2 separate regions of the Homo sapiens genome follow, and region 2 is reported to be linked to region 1. Evidence: microRNA targets listed by miRTarBase, many of them from high-throughput screens and not tested one by one. Region 1 holds a microRNA gene; the other region holds the end of a gene's coding sequence.

Region 1 (7,120 bases):
GTAAAAGACCAAAATATACTATCTACCCCCACCTCTCGCCTACAGACCACCCATGTATTTCACTCTGTGGGAAACAGTTTAGGCATAAAAATCCTAACGAAAGAATTCTCCCCACTTTTTTGGTTGAAGTCTTAAGCTGTTATAAGATATAAAAAGTACAACTTGGTAATGTGAAAAAATTCACTCATCCACAAGCATCCATGCTCGGTAAAGAGACGCCAAAGCTTTCACTTACTCTGTAAGGGATCTGCTCTTTATAAACAATGCACTTTACTCTGCTCTAAGGAGAATAGCCCACCCATCACAATAACGTCAAAATAATAACTAAGAGACCATCACTCAGAAATCCTGGCTTAAAATAACTAGAAGGTCAGGCTTTAACCTGAGACAGGAAATTCCTGAGTTAAGATAGAAACTTTCTTACTTCAAATCCCTTCTTACTTTCATGTTCTGTAAATTAAGTAGAAATAAATATTTACTCATTTTCAAAGGTCTCTTACAAATAATTTTTATCAGTTTTAATAGTTAGAGATAACGAAGTAAATTAGGAAAAATAATTAAATCTTCATTTTGAATTTTTTGACTTAGCGTGACAGCCAGTTTCCTGGAGTTGCTTTGGTTTAATTTCACTACAGAAGACTTAGAAGACAATTCTTTTCTTACATTTTTTTCCTTAAGAAATAAAAGACAAAAAGAAAACAAGGTGTAATAACCACACTAAAAATTACATGGTATGATAATAATACAAATAGCTCTTTTATGTTTTAGCTAGTATTTTAAGTAATAATAAACTAATATTCAACCTATAATTTGGGAGATTAAAAAAAGGTCAATATGGTTTTCAGTCTTTCATCTTTTTAACAAGTTTAGGGGCAGGTTCAACATAACAATGAAGTGTGCATATGTCACATAGTTACTGTAAGTGTGTTTTAAAAATCTATCAGAAACATAAATTGTCCAAAAGCCTTATGAATAGAACAATTGTTTTCAGCAAGATTTTTTTTTTCCCCTGAAAAACTGTTGTGGTTTTTCTGGCTCAAAAAATTTTTATATCTTGCCTTAATAAAACTGTTTTATATTAAAGCATAACATACAAACTCACAAATATTTCTTTTTATTTTTTCAGGTTGCATGCATCATTCCTTTAATTGAGCAGAGTTAACTGGATCAAATTATTTATGGGAGAGAGAGGAAAAGTTATAAAGAATTATAGTAATTTTTAATTTCCACCAATATACTCTTTGTAAGTGAATCACTCTATAATTACTTTCTGTTGCACTGAATGCAGCAACAATAACACAATAGTATTTTAAGGCACTGGTTTTTGGCATACTCTAACCTTGTAATTATTTAAATAACAGCCAAGTTTACTCATGTTTTTGATTCTGTCAAGAAAAAAAAAAAGTTCCTTTACTCGAAAGTGATGGCCGAAACAGAATCGGAAATTTGTTTTCTTGAAATTACATAAATACACAGAAAATGGCACTTATTAGCTTTTGTTAAAACATTACCTTACCTAATCACTGCATAAAAGTCCAGATTTGTAGAAAATTGTAATTTTCTCAGTATCTAAAACTATTTTGCTTTCCATTAAGTTTCTATTTGCTATTTTCTCAGAATTTTACAATTAAAGATAAATCACAAACTGTTTGTTTTTCTTAAAGTTCTTTGAGAAAATGTCTAATTATACAATCCTTGGACAATACTGTGTTTTTTTGGTGCTGTGTTTTTTAAGAAGTCCTACTTACTGGAATTTTGACTATTTGGATATTTTTGTTTTTAAAAGGGGAGGGGAATTTGCTTAATACTTCTAAAGATGTGAATTGATAATTGATATTAAAATAGAATTACTCTCAACTCACCAGAATTAAATTTTATATCTGCATATTTAACACTATTAGCTCATATAAATTATAAGAAAAATTTTCAAAGGATCTGGTTTTAATTTTTTGGATATGAAATGAATTTGCCTTTTCTGCCTTTTCTTAAGTACTATTTTGTAACTATATTGCACTAACTATATCCAAAACACATTCTGAGCATCACTGTGAGTAACAGCCTTCCAGTTTGTACCCTTTTGATTCACAGCATGGCCCTATAGTTAATTAAGAGGTGGATAACTTAAGCTCACAACTGCCTTTAATTTGATTTCACATCCACAGTTATAAACTTTGCATTTAAAAGGAAAATGAGACATTTAAATAGGTTCCTGTTGTTTCACATATAATTGGTAAAAACATATTCCCTTGTAGGATCCTATTATCAGAGCATCAAATACCAAAGTCAGCAACTTGGGTTGCCAAATAAATTAGGCTCATTAATTATTTTGAAAAGGGCTGCTGTTTCCATGTAAATGATAATTTTCTTTTTCATGGACAAGGTTATGGTACTTATCTACTAAAAGAAACATGCATAAACATAGTTTTTATCTTTAACTTCAGTATTAAAATATGCAGTTTTTTGCAAAGAGGAAAAACATCTGGTTCAATTACGCTGAACTCTGACTACATGTGGGCCAGTAATAATATGAATTGGACTTAAGAATAAACCTTGTGTTTAATCTCTTTTTTTCCTTAAAATTTTAATGTGAGTTTTCTGTTACGCAAATTATCCATGTTAGCACATTTGGAACAAATGTATAAATGTACTTTCTGAATAAAGTCAAAAGTCTAACTTGTTTTTAGTTCCATAATGTTTTAATGTTTAATTATATTGTGTATTTTTCTCCCTTTCCCCTTACTCTCCAAAATCACCAAATCTGGAAAACAGGCTGATTGTATCTGTCTATGAGCAAAGGAAACCTGAAGGAACCAAGGGCCTGGCTGGACAGAGTTGTCATGTGTCTGCCTGTCTACACTTGCTGTGCAGAACATCCGCTCACCTGTACAGCAGGCACAGACAGGCAGTCACATGACAACCCAGCCTGAATGACAACCAGCCATTGAAAGAAAGCAGCCCTCACACCATAGCATCTACACCAAGAGCTACAACCAAAATGAGGGGCTCGGGGGCCTGGGGTTTTAATCTGTTGGTTTAATACTTAACTCATGTATTATTTTATTTTGATTCAAGTATTAAAACCCACCAAAAGTAAAGTGAGTGGTGCCTATGAAATATAATAAAACCCATTTCTGAAAATGTTCCTGTGCATTCTATAGTTCTCTTTTCCTAATTGTTGTCAGCAAATCACTACCCTTGACCTTTATTGTACACAGCTTTGCAGCACCCTATATTGATATAAAAACTCAATATAACAAAACAATATAACTTCAGTCTGATGCTTAACAAAGAATAAATTATTCTAAGAATTCTTGTCCATAAACTAAGTATGGTTTTCTATGTCATGATTTTTTTTTTTTTTTTTTTTTTTTGGAAGGGGATAGGGTGGAAAGACAGAGAAAAGAAAAGGGAGAAAAAGAGTATTCCAAAGGATCAAGTGCTTTGAGTTAACTCTGCCAGTCTGGGTTAACTCTGCCAGTCTGGGTCTGGGCAAAACACAGTGAAAAGACTACTATTTCCAACTAGTGTTCAACTATATTAAAATAATAGTTTCTCCTCTTTTGACATATGGAAAGTTGAAATTTTTGATACTTCCACGCGTCATGGTATACATAAATTTATGACTGCGTCATTCTTTAATTAAGAAGGTGCTTATGCTACAGTTCTAGGAGTAGAATTTACAAGGCCAACACATTCACTTGCAACCTATGCTTCCATCACTATAAACTTTCAAGATCTTGAGATGTTCAGGCAATTCATTTATCTTCAGAAGCATAAGGAAAGTGGTTAATGCACTTGAAATGTATATTTTGACACATCTTTTGAGAAAATATCCAAACTTCAGTTTATGCACTGTTAACTGGAGTGAAATGATAAGGGATGGCTTTTGTCTATGAATACTTTAAATACTTAAGGGTAAAAGGTGGGAAGATGGATAAAATTAGAAATGTGTCAACTTTTATTTAGTTCATTAACATGTTTTAGCTTCAGTATTTGAAATTAATTTTCATCTTTCTTAGATTCTGGTCAAGCTTAAAAAATGTAACACAAGGCTACTCAAAACTTTTTTCACATTTAACAATTAAACACTTTATGTATGTATTCTTAACTAAAGCAAACTATTTTTCATTCAGCTATTTTATTTTTAAAATGAAAGTCTCAGTCTTAAAGCTAAGATCCCAGTGAGTTTCAAATTTTCTGACAATGATATTTTAACCAAACCTGACATTATAGTTTCTTTAATTAAAAAACTGAATGATGGGGCAAAACTACAAAGCACAAATATGATTAAAGTTAAATTTCTCTCATTTAAACAATCTTGTCTTATGGCAATATGTCATCTGCTAAAATTCATCTCTGCTTCTGCAAGATACATTGCACGATGCAGATTTTTGCCTTAAATAAAAGTCCCATTACTAGCAAATAAAGTCCTAAACAATACTTACAAAATGTAGAATATAAACAGGAAGACAATATAAAAATTACTCACAGAATATCGACATCGTTCTACCCAATCTTAAATGCCTTGTACCACCTGTTGCAAATGCTGCCTATGAGAGTTCACGTATGGAATTATTCTACTGGACCCTGCAAGGCTCAGGAGAGTGCTTGACAGCTCCCAGAATGAGACAATGACCTAGCCAGAACATTAAGGAGACTACACCCGTCCTTCAGACTCCAAAGGGAAAGCTAGGACGGCAGCAGAGTCATCCTAAGGTGAGGCACTCCAGGATAACATTTTCAATATTTTTCCTTAAAACATAAAGTTAACACCTTTTTTGTTAAACATTTTTTACTCAATTTTCAAAAAAAATGCTTGAAAGAATGTTTTGTATGTATTTTAAAGTCATTAAATGAGGCACATTTAAAAATTTTTCTCTTCTGGGAAAGGGTAATATAAAGGATAATATTGCTCTTCCAGGATAAACTTTTGAGTGGGACAAATAATGCATATAGGGGAGTGGGTTTGAATCTAAACTCATTTTTAATAAATTTGGAATAGGATTGGCCATTATGGTTTATTGAATAATACTCTTTTTTTCAAAATTATAAATCTTTAGATAATACCAGAACATGGAAATATTTGTATGAATAATCCTATATTAAAAAAGAATAACATCAGATAGTTTATGTATGTAAAAAAATATACAACTGTGATCATGCAGAATTTTAAGTAATATAAGTGGATTAGAGTTCAATATTTACTGGGACTTTTGTGAAAATATCTAAGTTTTGGCTAACTAAATAACTTAACGAAGGAGTGTGAACAGTGTTCACAGGGTCGACGCTGACCTTTTCCACCACAGGGAGTGTGCAGATCTGGTAGGAAATATGCACAATCTTAAAAGTATAAGTGAAACTAGAAAGAGAGCTGAATATTTCTATAACTTCTTGATCTCACAACTTTGATCATCCAGGGATATAACTGTCATTTTGTTTCCTATTTCTGAAGTTACATTTGTCATTTGTTATTGTTACAAAATGAAAACAATGCTAAGTAAATATCCCTATAAGGGAATTATATAATCTCCTTATCAAGTTATCCAAACACTTCAACCCACAAAAATGAGGCCTGTAATTTCTTAAGAGTCCAAAGAATGTCCTTATTTCAATGCAGATGTTGGGTTTTCCTCAATAGTATAAGGTTAGCAGATTTCCACTGGAAACGCCTATGTTGCATTATTCTGCTTGCCTAGGAGTAGCTCATTATGATTTAAATCTTTACACACTGGGCTATAGAAATAGAATAAATATTGACTAAGTGCTTTTATTATACATAAATTAACAGTCCTCTTTCTTCAGAGATTTGAATTATCTCTTAAAATTTACATATTTATGTATTTTTAAAACAAATTTCTCATTGGTTTTAAGAAAAATAAGGCTCTTTTCTCCTTGAATCAGGGTCTCCCATTCTCCTAAAATTCACATTTTAGACATAAGTTAAAGAAAAGCCATCATTTTTTTCAAGTCTGATTTTAAAGTATTAATGTAAAATTATCTAGATCAAAAATCCATTTCAAAAAACTTTTGAAATGACAGTTTCTGTTTTATTCTCACATCTTGCTTTTTACTAAATCCCTTTCCAAAAATGTACAACATATATGGGCAATGTATGAAAACAACATTGGGAAATTAATTTTCTGTTTAAATGATTTTCAATCCAGGAAGTCACATATATATAGTCAGAGGATAAAAAACAAACAAACAAACAAAAAACAAAAACAAAAACAAAAAAACACTAACCTTCAATGATGAAAATTAACAAAATTTAAGACAATTTAAGACAATCTACCTTTAGTGGTAATTTTATTCTGTAATTCAATAATTTAATTTTGACACTTGATATGCCAGGACGTGATTAATTATTATGCTGCATTTATTCATTCATTTGCTCAATGACACCTTCATTCAATCAATATTTAGTTAGTGTCTCCTATCAGTGCTATGTCCCCTGGTGGTAGGACAGGGAACAAACAATGTCTCCTGGTCTCAAGAGGCTTACAGTTTGCTGCAACTCTTAGCATGTGTGATGAGTTGTTCATGTCAATTTTCACCTTCCAAAAACATCTCTTAAATCCGTTCATTTTTATCAAATTCCAACAACTCATCCCAGCCCAAGCTACCATTATCTATGCAGACCACAATAGATGTAGAAAGCAATAGCTTTCTAGTAACTCCCCAGTCCAGTTTCGCCCTCTTCCAATCCATTCTCCACAAGGCAACCAAAGGAATCAGTAAAGAATTCAAATCTTATCATGTGACTCTCCAGCTTAAAAAACTTCTCATCATTCTTAATATCAAAATCCTCATCTTTAGAGTGCCTTTCTCTTTTTGCTCCAGTCACACTGGACTTAATTACCCTCCTTAAATTCATCAGGCTCAATCCTGCCTCAGAACATTAACACAAACCTTCTCTGACCATCCAATGTAAAGTACCCCCTACCTGTGTCCTCTATCCCAGACACTCTATGTCAACTCATCACTGGCTTTATTTTCTTCCTAGCCTGTAATCAGCATCTGCTAGGTTTTCCTATTTATTTGTATGTTTGCTTTATTGGGAAAGAGCCTTCATAAGAATAGGTACCATGAATTCCTTGCTAATCATTTTATCCTTAGTGAT
Region 2 (7,120 bases), not on the chromosome of region 1:
TCCCTTTCTTTATAGCATCTACCTCAGTTTCTTTATTAAATATATTCACTTAAATAGTATCTAGACTCTAGGCCAAGAGAGACAGACTATTGGGAGTGGTAGTGACTGGGGCAAACTGGAGATTGCCTGCCCCATCTAAAGCACTCAGCTTCAGCCATCACTGCAGTGCAGGGTTGCAGGCTCAGCTCTGCCAGACCTCCTTGTTTTCAAGGAAGGCAGAAATCCAGATTTTCAGGTGAAATCTCCTGCTTTTTGAATGTTGACATTTAATTAATTTTTAGGCACATGTAGGGTGATCCAAATTGGTCTGGGGTCAGGATTTGGCCCACAGTCTATCAGTTTGCGTCATCTAGTTTTAGTTTTGACTTTAGGTTTCTTGAAGGAAGGGACCAAGCCTGCTTTTGTCATCATTATATCCTCACGGCTTAGGTGTAAGCCTGTCAGAGAGCCTGGTACAGGAAAGGCACCTGTTTGTAAAATAGATGGGTGGATGGAGGGGAGGGTAGGCAGATGGATGAGTGAATAAATTCTTACAGTCTTCAGAGCACAAGTATTTCAAAGCAGCCTACCTGGGAACTGCTCATGGTCCTGCTGGCCACCTAGACCACCAATGCCCTGACTTCTATGCCCTCTGCAGAGAATCCGTGCCTGGGACAAGTAGTCCGAGAGGTGATCCGCCGCCAGAAAGGTTATGCATCATGTGCCACAGCCTCCAAGGTGCCCATCATGGAATGTCGTGGGGGCTGTGGGCCCCAGTGCTGCCAGCCCACCCGCAGCAAGCGGCGGAAATACGTCTTCCAGTGCACGGACGGCTCCTCGTTTGTAGAAGAGGTGGAGAGACACTTAGAGTGCGGCTGCCTCGCGTGTTCCTAAGCCCCTGCCCGCCTGCCTGCCACCTCTCGGACTCCAGCTTGATGGAGTTGGGACAGCCATGTGGGACCCCCTGGTGATTCAGCATGAAGGAAATGAAGCTGGAGAGGAAGGTAAAGAAGAAGAGAATATTAAGTATATTGTAAAATAAACAAAAAATAGAACTTATTTTTATTATGGAAAGTGACTATTTTCATCTTTTATTATATAAATATATTACACCATCTGCGTATATGTACCATATAGTGAGTTATTTTTACCAAGTTTTGTGTTGTGTATTTGTTGTGTTTTTAAAAATAGCTGTTTAAAAATTTAAGAAAAAAATAGACTAATAAAAATGCTTTAAAACAAAAGGATAAGAATAAAGAATGATAGCCTGTCTGAGGAAGGAGGAAGATGTTTTCATGTTTATGAAACGGTATTATGTCGGCAGTAGACCAAGAGCTGCTCATTGAGATCAGAAAAAGGAATAAGAGGAAGAGAGAGAAGGAAAAGACCTTTGTTTCTTGTTTTTTAACTCCCTTTTATTTTTCCTCCCCTAAAATTACCCAGCTTTTCGGAGTCCTGGATGTCAGTGCCCAAAATGCCCAGTTCTTCCAGGAAAAGCTGCTGAGCCCTGGCCTTCTCAGTCTCACTGCCACTCAAAAATATTGCTGTCCCTGTCTGTCCCAGACCCCCCTTCAGGGTATCTGAACCCACTGGGGGACCCCTCTTCTCCTTCCTGGGTGGCCCTGGCTTCCGTATCTGAACCCACTGGGGGACCCCTCTTCTCCTTCCTGGCTGGCCCTGGCTTCCAATCGAGGACTGACTATTGAAGTCTGCTACAGGTGTCATTTGGAACTGTCTTACCAAATTTTAAAACAGCTGCTATTTTTCCTGCTCCTCCCCAGGAGAGGGGTCTTCCTAGAGGAGGCGAGGGAAGAGAATATCATGGTGTCTCCTCAGGACCCATGCACTGGCCCTCTCTCCTCCTTCCAGGTAATTTTTCATTGGAATGTATCCCAGTAGAGAAGGTAGTCAGCCCTTCTTGGAAGCGGAAGGCTGGGAGCCAAGTCAAGTCTGCCCACAGCGCTAGATGTCCAACTCTGGAAGGTTCTTGGAGGCTCTTGTTGTAAGACAGGCCTCTGCCACCTGATCCTCCAGGTCACCAGCATGACGATAGAGACTCCTTGCCCATCTGTGACACTTTCCAATGCATATCCAAACTTTACCTTATTTTATCTATGCAACCCCTGCCTCCCTGGGAAGGATAAGGGAGTAGAGCTGGGTTCACTAAGAAGGAAGTTTAGGCCCTCACAGGCTCTGGAACTTGCCTTAAGCCACACACCAGATAAGTGGAGGAGCCAGACCAGAAGTCCAGACCCAAAGCTTGAGATTCTTCCTCTAGAATGGGTGAGCACAGGTGATTCAGGCGGCTTAAATCCATCAGAGCAGCCCTGCCGGAAAAGGAAATAATATGATGTTTTTTCCTGCTCTTGTTCTGCCTTGCTCACTCCTTCTCCCTCCGCAGTATCTGGAAAGATTCTGGAGACCAGGGCTTATGCATCTAGGGAAAGTGACCAAGGGCAGCCTATCCAGCCTCTGCCTCCATTCCTGAAGGGGACTTCCCTGCCCCTGTTTCTTTCCATGTCTCTCCCTCCCTCACTCCCATTTGCCCCCTTCCACCCCATCAGGTTAGCCACATATCTTCCAGGGCTCAGCTGTTCACACCAACTCCCTGGCTCTTATCATCCATCCCTCCTTCCCCCAGGAGCTTCCACTGTAGGAGTTTCAGGGAGAAGAGTTTGGAATTCATTGGACCTTTCAGCCCTCAGGTTCCCTAGAGGAGCCTAGTTGATCTGTGAGTACCAATGGTGGGCCAAAGACGCAGGGAATAATGAAGGGAGAAAGAAAAGAAAGGAAGATGGAGGAAAACGAGGCAACTGGAAGAAGGAAGGAAGGAAAGAAGGAAGGGATGGAGGGGATGAAGAGAAGGGAGAGAGGGATATAGCTGAGGAATTTATCTAAAAATGTGCATGTAAATCTCCATTATGTTCCAGGTACTGTGCCTTATGATGGCTTTGTTTTTTGTTGTCATTAGAGACAAGGTCTTGCTTTGTCACCCAGGCTGGAGTAGAGTGGTTCGATCATAGCTCACCGCAGCCTCAACCTCCTAGGCTCAAGCCATCTTCCTGCCTCAGTCTCCCAAAATGCTGGGATTACAGGTGTGAGCCACTATGCTCAGCCTGTTTCAAACATTATTATAATAGCAGATTTATTTAGTACTTTATTATACATCAGATACCACTCTAATTGTGAAATAGATATATATTCATTTAATTATTGAAACAACCATGTAGTTAAAACACTATTAACTCATTTTACAGTTGAGTAGACTGAGACACAGAGAAGTTAAAGAACTTGCCCAAGAGTAAATGTCTAATAAACCGTAGAGCCAGGATCTGGGCCCAGGCTGTCTGACTCCAGAACTTGCTCACTCAACCACTAAACCATCCTGCTTCTCATGGGAAAGAAACACATCCTGCCTTTGAGGATCCTACAGCCTGTGACAAAAACAGTCATAAAAATGGACAATTGCCTTATTACACAAGGAGCTCTTAAGTGGCAATACAAGCAATGGAAGTGGCTGTCCAGAGGAGGGAACTTCTAGTCCTAGGTCTTTAAGGATGAATAGGAGTTTGCCAGAGTGAGAAAGGGAATTGAACTTTCCTGGGAGTGGCCTTTTAAAAAGCAATGAGATATGGCCAGGCCTGGCTTGTTTGGGGAAGAGTCAAAATCTAGGGTGGCAAGAGTATGGGAAGCACACTGAGGAGCAGAGAGAAATGGGGTAGGTAGGAAGGTAGGGTTTTGACCACAAAGAGCTGTGCATGCTAAACTGGGCCACAGGTGCCAGCAGGGTTGTTTGAGGAAGGGAAGAGCAAGACAAGCTCTGGTTTAGGAAGAGAGCTGTGGCAGCATAAAGGCCTGAAAGAGGAGACAGAGCTGTCACCCAAAATGGACTTGAGAGCTCCCTGTGGTTTACTCTGTGGCTAGAAAACACTGCCGGCCAGATGGATCACAAATGTCTATGGTAGCTTAGAAGCTCTGCTCTTGAAGAGGATCCTGGGATCTGCCCAACACCCTTCCCAACCTCCATTTCCCCATCCCCACCTCCATTGCCCCATCCCCCCTCTCCCCCTAGGCAGGTGGATCTGAGCCTTATCCCACCACCAATGCCCCTGCTAGCCTCTCCCCACCCAGCCCAGAGCCTACTCAGCCTGCCATCTCAAGAGCCCCACCGAGGGTCACTGGCTTCCTGGGAGGAGTCACCAGGCTGCCAGCTTTCCCTCTGCCTCCCCAAGGAACCTGAGACCTCCCTCTGCTCATCACCCTGGGCCCAATCCTGAATCCAGCCCCCATCAACCAAGACAGCAAAAGGGCCAGGTCTGTCCCTTATAATTTTGAGCCTTCTCCCTCAAGTTTGGAAGCCCTGACTTTAAGAAATGCCAAATGCAAGGACCATTAAGAAAATTCTCCCCGAAATGAGGCTCCTCTAACAAATGATGATTAAAACGCTCTCTCCTTGAGCAGTCACATTCTAGAAACAGGACATTCCATGAGGCAGGAAGAGTTCAGTTAATTTGCTCCTGAAAAAGTGTGGTTCAGTGTTTGTGTGGCAATGTACGTGGGCAGAAGAGGCCGCTCAAGCTGTGTCCCCCCTGAGCAGGATTCAGGAAAGGGAAAAGAAGTTCTCTTCAACTCAGCCAAGGGGCCGTACGATGGCCGATGAGATTATGTATTTAAAAGTTCTTTGTAAAGTGTAAACTAAAAACCTTAAATGTAAGATGCTGTTGTTATTATTACTGTTGTTGTTGCTGTTATGGACATGCCAAAAGGCCCTTGTTAGAAGACAGTTTTGCCTTTTCAATCTCATAGCAAGGAACTCAAGTCTGATGCTTCAAAAAGATGAGAAGAAGGGCAAGAAGAGGGATAACTCCCAAGCTCAGAGGGAAAAAAAAGGTGGGGGAAAAGAGCCCCAGGGTGACCTTCAGGAAAGGCCAGGACCAGGATGATCTAACCTTTCCCTTCACCAGAAACAAAGCTATTGCCAGACTGAACCCTAAAGTCAAGCAGTCACCCACTGCCTTTGCTGGGAGCAGAAGCCCATAGCAACAAGTGACCTGCCCCTCAGACTCAAGATCCCAGATACCAGAGCTGGAGGAGTCATAGGGCATTACTGGTAGGCAGGAAAACTGAGGGTCGAACAAATGGAAGAATGCGGTGATCATAGACCAAAGACACACAGATAATTAACCCCATGTGTCCACCCAGGCCAAAGTTCTTCCTGCTACCCCACAGTGGATGTCCAGGCAGATGGTCCCCACATGATGGGGAAGCAGAGGGCATAGTGTGGTTTTGTGGGACTTGTTCATGTTTTGTAGTGTGGGCTCAACAGTGCCAAAGGAAACACTAGGGAAAAGTTGGTGAAACATGCCAGCTAGCAGGACCAGTAAAGGCATAATCAGGCATTTGGCAAAGCTTGCTTTTCTAATTCAATGATAGGTTCTAATAGGAAATTTTTGAAGATTTTTTAAAACAATGTTATAGTGGCACTTCCCCAGTATGGAATAAATAACATGCATTCTTTTTTCAATATACTGTCATATTCAGATGTCATTAAAATAAATGGATGAGTCACAGAGGAGCTATCAGATGCTCTCATGACTACCATAACTCAGCCCTGCTCCACGGTGTCTGCTTTATTTTTACCCCTGATTTTCAAACCCCCTGGAACAAAGATGACTGCATTCATGGGGTCTGGGGAAAGTCTGGTGTGGAATTAGATCAAAGAATCAGTTTCTTGGATCATGAAGTAAGAAAAATGGATCCAGAGTTCACCAGAACCATTGAAGAGACGACCCAACACACAGCTTAGGGTCAGCAGGGGATGTGGTCCCTATGGCCACAGAAGGTGCCAAGGGTCATGGGGAAGAAAGCCACTACAGTTCAGAGGAAGAGAACACCCTACTGATATGTGAAGGAATATTCCTCCTTATAGGACTCCAATGCCTAATTAAATTTCTCCTTTATCAGTTCCTTCAACAAGTATTTATTGAGCATCTACTATGTGCCAGGTACTGTTCTACGCTTTGAGGACTCCAAAGATGATCAAGACCAAGTCCTTGTTCTCCTGGAGTTTAACTGAGGGGGTTTGTGCCAATCAACAAATAAAGATAACACCCGATAGTGATAAGTTCACTTCCACAAATAAAGAAGAGGAGACACTCCAGAATAGCTGGGTGGGTGCTTCATGCAGTGAGGTCAAGAAGGCCTCCCTAAGGAATTGGGACATGGGGTGGGGCAAATACCAAGAAATGGAAGGGGAAGTAACCTGGCCCTGCGGTACTCACTAGATATTTGCTTTGTGTGGGTGTCATCCGAGGGAGGCAGGCAGCCCGAGCAACTTAGGAAGCCAGAGAGGATGGCCTGGGCAAGACAGCATGAGAGGGAGGGGAGGGGCAAGCAGGGCTCTCAGCCTCTCAGCCCTGGGGCATCCTCAAGGGGCTATGCACTTTTAGAAGGAGGATTGCTAAGGGTCTGGAGGCTGCCACTGGCTGGCTGGAGGTCATCCTCACTTCCCTGGCAGATGGCCTTCCATCTGCCCTGTGGAGACCCCTCTGAGAGCAAGACACTAGTGGGCAGCAGATGCACCAGGTGCTAAAAAAGGGGCTAGACTCTGTGGCCCCCAGCCGGTTGTTCCTTCTTCCCCCAGGTCTCCCTGAGCAAGACAAGGTCACACTGACTGGGGGCCCTAAGCCTCCAGCAAAGATGCCCTTGTATAGTTTTATACATTTTAGTGTGCATTTATCTGAAATAGGTAGGGAGTGGATTCTGCACTGACACACACCATGTCAGACAGCCTGGATTTTCCTGCCAGGAGGAGCTACTGCCAAGAAACCTACAGTGTCCATCTCCCATGTTTATGCCAGGAGCCCCTCCTCCCAGGTTTGGGACCTAGATGTGTATCCCTCTATCTCAAATTCCCTATTATATCAATCGATAGCAGAGGTTCTCAACTGGGAGAGGTGTTGACCCCACCCAGGAGACATCTGGCAGTGTCTGCAGATATTTTTGATTGTATAACTGGGACACAGGGTGCTATTAGCATCTAGTAGGTAGAGACCAGGGGTGCTGCTAAACATCCTACAATATACAGGACAGCTCCTTGACAACAAAGAATTATCCTGCCCAAGATGTTCATAGTGCTAAG

The links. Region 1 holds the annotated microRNA hsa-miR-214-3p (ACAGCAGGCACAGACAGGCAGU, at 2,886-2,907, shown strand). A microRNA usually pairs through its seed, bases 2 to 8, with sites in the 3' UTR of a target mRNA and lowers its output. Matches are read on the target gene's strand: a 7mer-m8 pairs with bases 2 to 8, a 7mer-A1 pairs with bases 2 to 7 and ends in A, and an 8mer does both.
Region 2: the mRNA of SLIT3 is a reported target of hsa-miR-214-3p. Seed matches in the 3' UTR shown: 7mer-A1 at 1,477-1,483.

What each region holds. Positions count from the first base shown.
Region 1 is chr1:172,134,603-172,141,722 of GRCh38, reverse strand. MIR214 (microRNA 214) reads left to right here and starts at 2,816; the gene lies at 2,816-2,925. All of the region lies in intron 14 of DNM3 (dynamin 3), which reads right to left. It overlaps DNM3OS (DNM3 opposite strand/antisense RNA), which reads left to right. Exons shown (of 4, transcript NR_103486.1): 4 at 1,127-4,844. It overlaps MIR3120 (microRNA 3120), which reads right to left and starts at 2,915; the gene lies at 2,835-2,915.
Region 2 is chr5:168,660,207-168,667,326 of GRCh38, reverse strand. It overlaps SLIT3 (slit guidance ligand 3), which reads left to right. Exons shown (of 36, transcript NM_003062.4): 36 at 638-5,587. The coding sequence ends at 873. Among named protein-coding and RNA genes, the nearest start is that of SLIT3-AS2, 43 kb to the left of the region's middle.